2 separate regions of the Homo sapiens genome follow, and region 1 is linked to region 2. Evidence: fine-mapped expression QTL. A gene starts in region 2. The other region holds a variant in brackets. All regions are shown on one strand. Distances are between the middles of the regions.

Evidence for each region. PIP is the estimated chance that this variant, and not a neighbour inherited with it, causes the effect.
Region 1: its variant is the best candidate, but not a certain one, in a credible set for the expression of TMEM156 in whole blood (TOPMed, PIP 0.60).

What each region holds. Positions count from the first base shown.
Region 1 is chr4:38,950,415-38,953,342 of GRCh38, reverse strand. No RefSeq gene overlaps it. Among named protein-coding and RNA genes, the nearest start is that of TMEM156, 81 kb to the left of the region's middle. The variant T/C (reference allele first, on the strand shown) is at 1,623.
Region 2 is chr4:39,030,736-39,033,663 of GRCh38, reverse strand. It overlaps TMEM156 (transmembrane protein 156), which reads left to right and starts at 1,255. Exons shown (of 7, transcript NM_024943.3): 1 at 1,255-1,438. The coding sequence starts at 1,351.

The DNA.
Region 1 (2,928 bases), 80 kb after region 2:
AACAATTGTAATAAATGTTTGTGGACTGACTGGATGAACATAAGGATAGAGAGGTGATTAAATGAATAAAAAGTATGAGTTCATGAAAATCAGTAGATGTTCTCTTTTACTTTATCTCATGACTTATTTCCATTTTAGCTCTGGCATGGAAAAAAAGGCAACATTTGGATGCAATACACAAAGATCTTTAAAAATCTGTGAGCCTTTTTTTTTTAATTTTAGAAATAGGGTTTCCCTCTGTTCCCCAGGCTGGAATTCAGTGGTACGATCATAGCTTACTGCAGCCTCGAACTGCTGGGCTCCAGCGATCCTCTCGTCTCAGCCTCCCACAGTATTGGGGCTATAGGCGTGAGCCACTGTGCCTAGCTGCTTTTCATTTCTAAAGCCTACTAATTTCAGACCATTTCATATGTGTTATTCCTATTTGGTATTGATGCCCTAGTAGTGGCCGATCAACTGCTTCCTTTGCAGCAAACTCAGATGGAGATGACCAGCAAGTGACAGACCTGTTCAGCAAGCAAACATATTATTTTGCACATGACTTCCCTTGAATAAATGTGAGCCTCCACTCTGCAATCCTTGCCGGAGACCAAGTGGTTTTAAAATAGAGACAGATGTGTGATACCACGCATTGGCTTGTAACACCCGTATCTTATACAAATGGCCACACTGTAGTCCCAGGGTCTGCAGAACAGACCAAGACTCCTTAGTAATCGATCACATCACTATCAAGGCAGCAAACAGGGAAGGGTGGAAACATGCCTTCCGCTGTCATTGATGGAAAATTGTACCTTGACAGGGAAAGGTAGTTCGGAGCCTTCTTGAATCATTGAGGAACTGCTTAAAATGCACATTTGTGGTCTAAAATGTCCAAAATATCTTAACACCTCACAACAGGCACCGAATGGTTTGGGCAATATCAGGTAAATTATGAATCCATTTTGTAGTTTGGGAAGGTCATTAGGACACAGATTCATTATCTGCTGAGACTTTTTTGTTGCTTTCCATTTATTACTCTCCTTTGAGTGAAATGGAGCTGTGAGAGCAGAGCAGAGACCTCAGTTCACTCAGCCCTGACACATTACTGGTGTCTATAATTTCACCATAAATTTGGAGAGGGAGAGACAGAAATTGCAAATGCAGGGATTTAAATCCCCTTGTGCTGCATTTGTTAAGCTGAGCAGATTGTAAACTGCCTCTTGCAAATACGATATGCATCTGGGCATCAAGCTAATAATTCTGAACCACAGAATCATTCATTTGTGTGATGCTTCCCTCCAGAAGTTTCTGAAATTGCTTCTGTAGTCATTATGTATCCCAGAGCTGTTCAGTTTTAGTCTGAGGATTAGAGAGACGATCTGGCTAAGGAAGTGAGAGGCCTTTTTCAATGAGATGGAAATGACAAATTTTTCTGTGTACATCATCACAATCTTTACAAATTATGCATTTGAAGTACTTGGTTTGGGCTTTTCTGAGGAAAGCAAGGAGAGATGTGTAGAGTCATCAACTTTGTGTTAGAAACTTACAGGCACATCGATGACAAATAAATTCAAATCATTTAGACACTCTCATGGACACTTCTGGCTCTTCTAGTGAAAAACAATCTGTGTGTTTTTACACTT[T/C]CTGTCTCTGGCAGGGCCCTATCCTCTTACCTCCCTGATCAGAAGCAATTTCTTTTGCTTCCTGTTTTGATTTCTAAAAATTTAGTTACATAAGTATTCCATTAATATATTTCATTATACAAACATAATTATTGCAAATAACATTGCAGTCCCTTTTGATTATTGTGAAATTCTGATGTTTTCCCCCACCTATGGCACCCCCTTTCACTTCTGGTTATAAGCAATGTTAACAGTTTCATGTGTATCCTTCCGGATCTTCTAGGGGTGTGTGTGTGTGTGTGTGTGTGTGTGTACAAAGATGTTATTGTAGACAAATATCATACTACAGCTTCTTTTTTTTTTCACTCAATTACACATCTTGGAGCTGTCACTACAGGGATCTATTCCATTCTTTTCATTTGTTTTTACTGTTGCATAATATTCCAGAGTATTTGTGCACCACCATTAACTTCTTCAGGGCTTCTGAATTTTCACTGCAGTCTACCTTACCCTGAAGAATCTTGAAAGACCCCTCAAACAGCAAATTCTTCAAAGTAAAAAAAGAGTACATCGTATTAATTTTACTGGGAAAAAGCTTACTCATTTCTAAGCTCCCCAATCATAATCATTAATGCTATACCACCAAATACCATTAAAATGAGCACCATTACTTCACAGTTAACATTTCCTAATGTAACTCAACCAGATATTTTCCCACAAATTACCCTATAGTACAGCTATTTCCGTTCTCTCATTCAGCGTTTACAGATTATACACAGAAGACTTTGACCTATTTGTTAATTCAACAAATCATTATTGAGCACCGACTATTTGCCAAGCACTGCTGTGGGTGTTAGGAATATGGTAACAAACAGAACACAGAAAAATCCCTCCTTTCCTGGAATCTACATCCTCGTGCAAGGCAGATAACAGAAAAATCGGTAGGATATAAAGGATGTTAGACAGTGGTATGTCCTGAAGAGAAAAAAATACGAAGGTGGGAAAGGTGGTTTATTTAGAAGGTGGTTTTTGAATAAACACCTTCAAGAAGCGAGGGAGGAAGCCGCGCGGATGTCTGGGGGAGAAGCCTTCCTGATCAAGATACCCTGTGGGAACAAATGATTTTTTCTGACAGAGAAATGGCCGGGGTCTTTCTGTCCTGCAGTTCATCATTTGGGTTCTTGTCCTTTATCACTTCCTACCAGTGGAATTTTTTTCCCAAGGAGAGTTGACTAGAGCTCTCCTGCAGAAATGTCGAAAGGCGATCATATTTTTCAATGAGAAATGAATCACTCAACATACAAGGTTTATAACATGAGGGAGACCA
Region 2 (2,928 bases):
TAGCTGGGCGTGGTGGTGCATGCCTGTAGTCTCAGCTACTCAGGAGGCTGAGGCAGGAGGATCACTTGGATCTGGGAGGCAGAGGTTGCAGTGAGCCAAGATTGCACCACTGCACTCCAGCCTGGAGACAGATTGAGACTCCGTTTCAAAAAACAAAAAACAAAAACAAAAGAATAAATGATTAAATTGATAAACTATACATTATTTCGTGTAATATTAGAAATACAATGAAGAACTGTGTTTCTCTGCATAAAACTTTTAGGTACGTGTTTTATACTCTGTTACAAAATAGTTGGGTGGAAAAACTCCCACCATATACAAAATGAAAAGGCAAATGACAACCTGGGAAAAATGTTTGCAAAACATATGCAAAGATTTCATATTCCCAATAGAGAAAAAAGTCTTATAGATCAACAGGAAGGATATAAATGCTGCAATAAAAGACATGAACATGCAATTAACAAAAGAAATTCAAATTGCCAGCAAATATTAAAAATCTTTAGAATTACTGTCAACCAAACAAATGCAAATTAAACAATACTTTTTTTTCCTTTTAAATTGGCAATGGTTAAAATGTTTCTATCTTCTAGATGTACTATTTTCTGAACACCAGAATTCAGCACAGCACCTGGCACCAAACAGGATCGACAATCATTTAATAAGTAAATGAATGAGTCATGTGCATGCAACCTAGACATGACTGACATTCACCCTTTTATTTCTTTCTCTCTTGAGAAGGGATCTCACTCTGTCACCCAGGCTGGAGTGCAGTGGCCTGTCATGGCTCACTGCAGTCTCAAATTTCTGGGTTCAAGTGATCCTCAGCTTCCTGAGTAGCTGGGACTACAGGAGTGCACCACCACACCTAGCTATATTAAAATTATTTTTGTAGAGAGGAGGGCTTGCTCTATTGACCAGTCTGGACTCAAACTCCTGAACTCAAGTGATCCTTCTGCCTTGGCCTCCCAAAGTGCTGGGATTACAGATGTGAGCCACTTCGCCCAGCCCACCGTTTTATTTTTGTGAGTATACTGTGGGTTTATATTTATAAATTGGGTGGGGAGAAGATCCCCTTGCTTCTTGAGATCATTTATTTACCTTTCTTGCTTAGAAAGACAAATAAATGGTCTGAAAGTGCTTATTTGGGGGGTAGTTTTTTTTTTTAATGGGAAGTGACTCAAAAGTGAAGTCTCAGTTCAAGACCTTTTTTTTTTTTTAAGTCTTACTCAAAAGGAAGTGAGTATGAGGTGAACTGCATTAACCTAAAGTGCTGCAGAGATAAACTTAAAGCAGGAAGCAACATACCATGAATGTACTGCAAGGGAACACATTTGTGTCATGTGAAGAGACATGACAAAAACAGCCCTCCTTAAATTATTTGTGGCAATAGTGATCACATTCATTTTAATTTTGCCGGAATATTTCAAGACACCGAAAGGTGAGTATATAATTGTAATCTAGCTTTCCTTTCTTAATTTAAAAAAATTAGTGTCAGCTAGTGGTTACAGAAAAGATCCTCTTTTTGGACACATGCTGCATAGGCTGAAGTTCTAGATCTGAAAAACTAATAAAACAAGATTGCAATTTTAGTTGACTGTTATATAGTACAGTAACCTAATTCATAGTACTTAATTATCATAGCATACCTAAAAATGAAAATATTTAAAATCTGTAGTCTAGATTTCAGACATTGAGATTACAATAATTGCATCATGATTTTGCTCTTTGAAACACTTTCTTCAAAGCAGTTTTTTTTTATTTTTTTATTTTTTATTTTTTTTTTTTGAGATGGAGTCTCTGTCGCTCAGGCTGGAGTGCAATGGCCTAATCTTGGCTCACTGCAACCTCTGCCTGCCGGATTCAAGCAATTCTCCTGCCTCAGCCTCCGAGTAGCTGGGATTACAGGCGCCCACCACCATGCCTGGCTAATTTTTGTATTTTTAGTAGAGACACGGTTTCACCATGTTGGCCAAACTGGTCTTGAACTCCTGACCTTGTGATCCACCCACCTCGGCCTCCCAAAATGCTGAGATTACAGGCTTGTGCCACTGTGCCTGGCCCAAAGCAGCTTTAAGTATGCTTTTTACATTTTGGAATTCTTTAATGAAGAAAGTGATATTTATTGTGTTAAAAATGCTAGAATTCCCTTTACTACAACTATTTCACACAGATAACTTACCGTCACCTTTTGACAAGAAAAAGCGTTTATATATTTTGAAAATACAATCAAAATAAGGTGAGTGGAAATTTAAACAGATGTATGTGTATGTATTTGTAACTGGAGAAAAATGGAACAAAATTAACTTTGTGAACGTTTCAGAAAATTGTGATATAATTGCTGAAACCTAGATTAGGAAAATAAATAGGTATAAATTTAAACTATTTTGATGTTAGCAAAGGACTTGAAAATTTATTAATGTGAGGTTCAAATGGTAATTGTGCTCCCTAGCATTTAATAAGAAGAAAAGGTGAAAAGAAAAGGCTGTATTCTATCATTAAATAGTCTTTATATGAATTTGATTAAAATCAGAGAAAAACTCATATTTGATTATTTGCTGCAATGAATATTTATTGTTGCATATATGTAATGCTAAATAGCCAGATAAAAATATTTTTGCTAATTATATTTGATGACATATTTCAGTGATTATTTGATGTTGCATTTACATGATGCTAAGTAGCGAGTTAAAAATATTTTTGCTAAATAAACACTATGACTACAATTTGGTTTTCTGGCATTATGTTACTTAGATGAAGCAATCATAGCACATATTTTCAGTGCTTGATTCCACTGGGTGAAAATGTGTTATAAAGAGAATAGTTAGAATAAAGATAATCTATTTTTAAGATATTGTGGGCTGAGAGTAAGCTCATTTAATAGTTATCCGGAGTAGGTTCTATCTATATATCTATCTAGCTAGCTAGCTA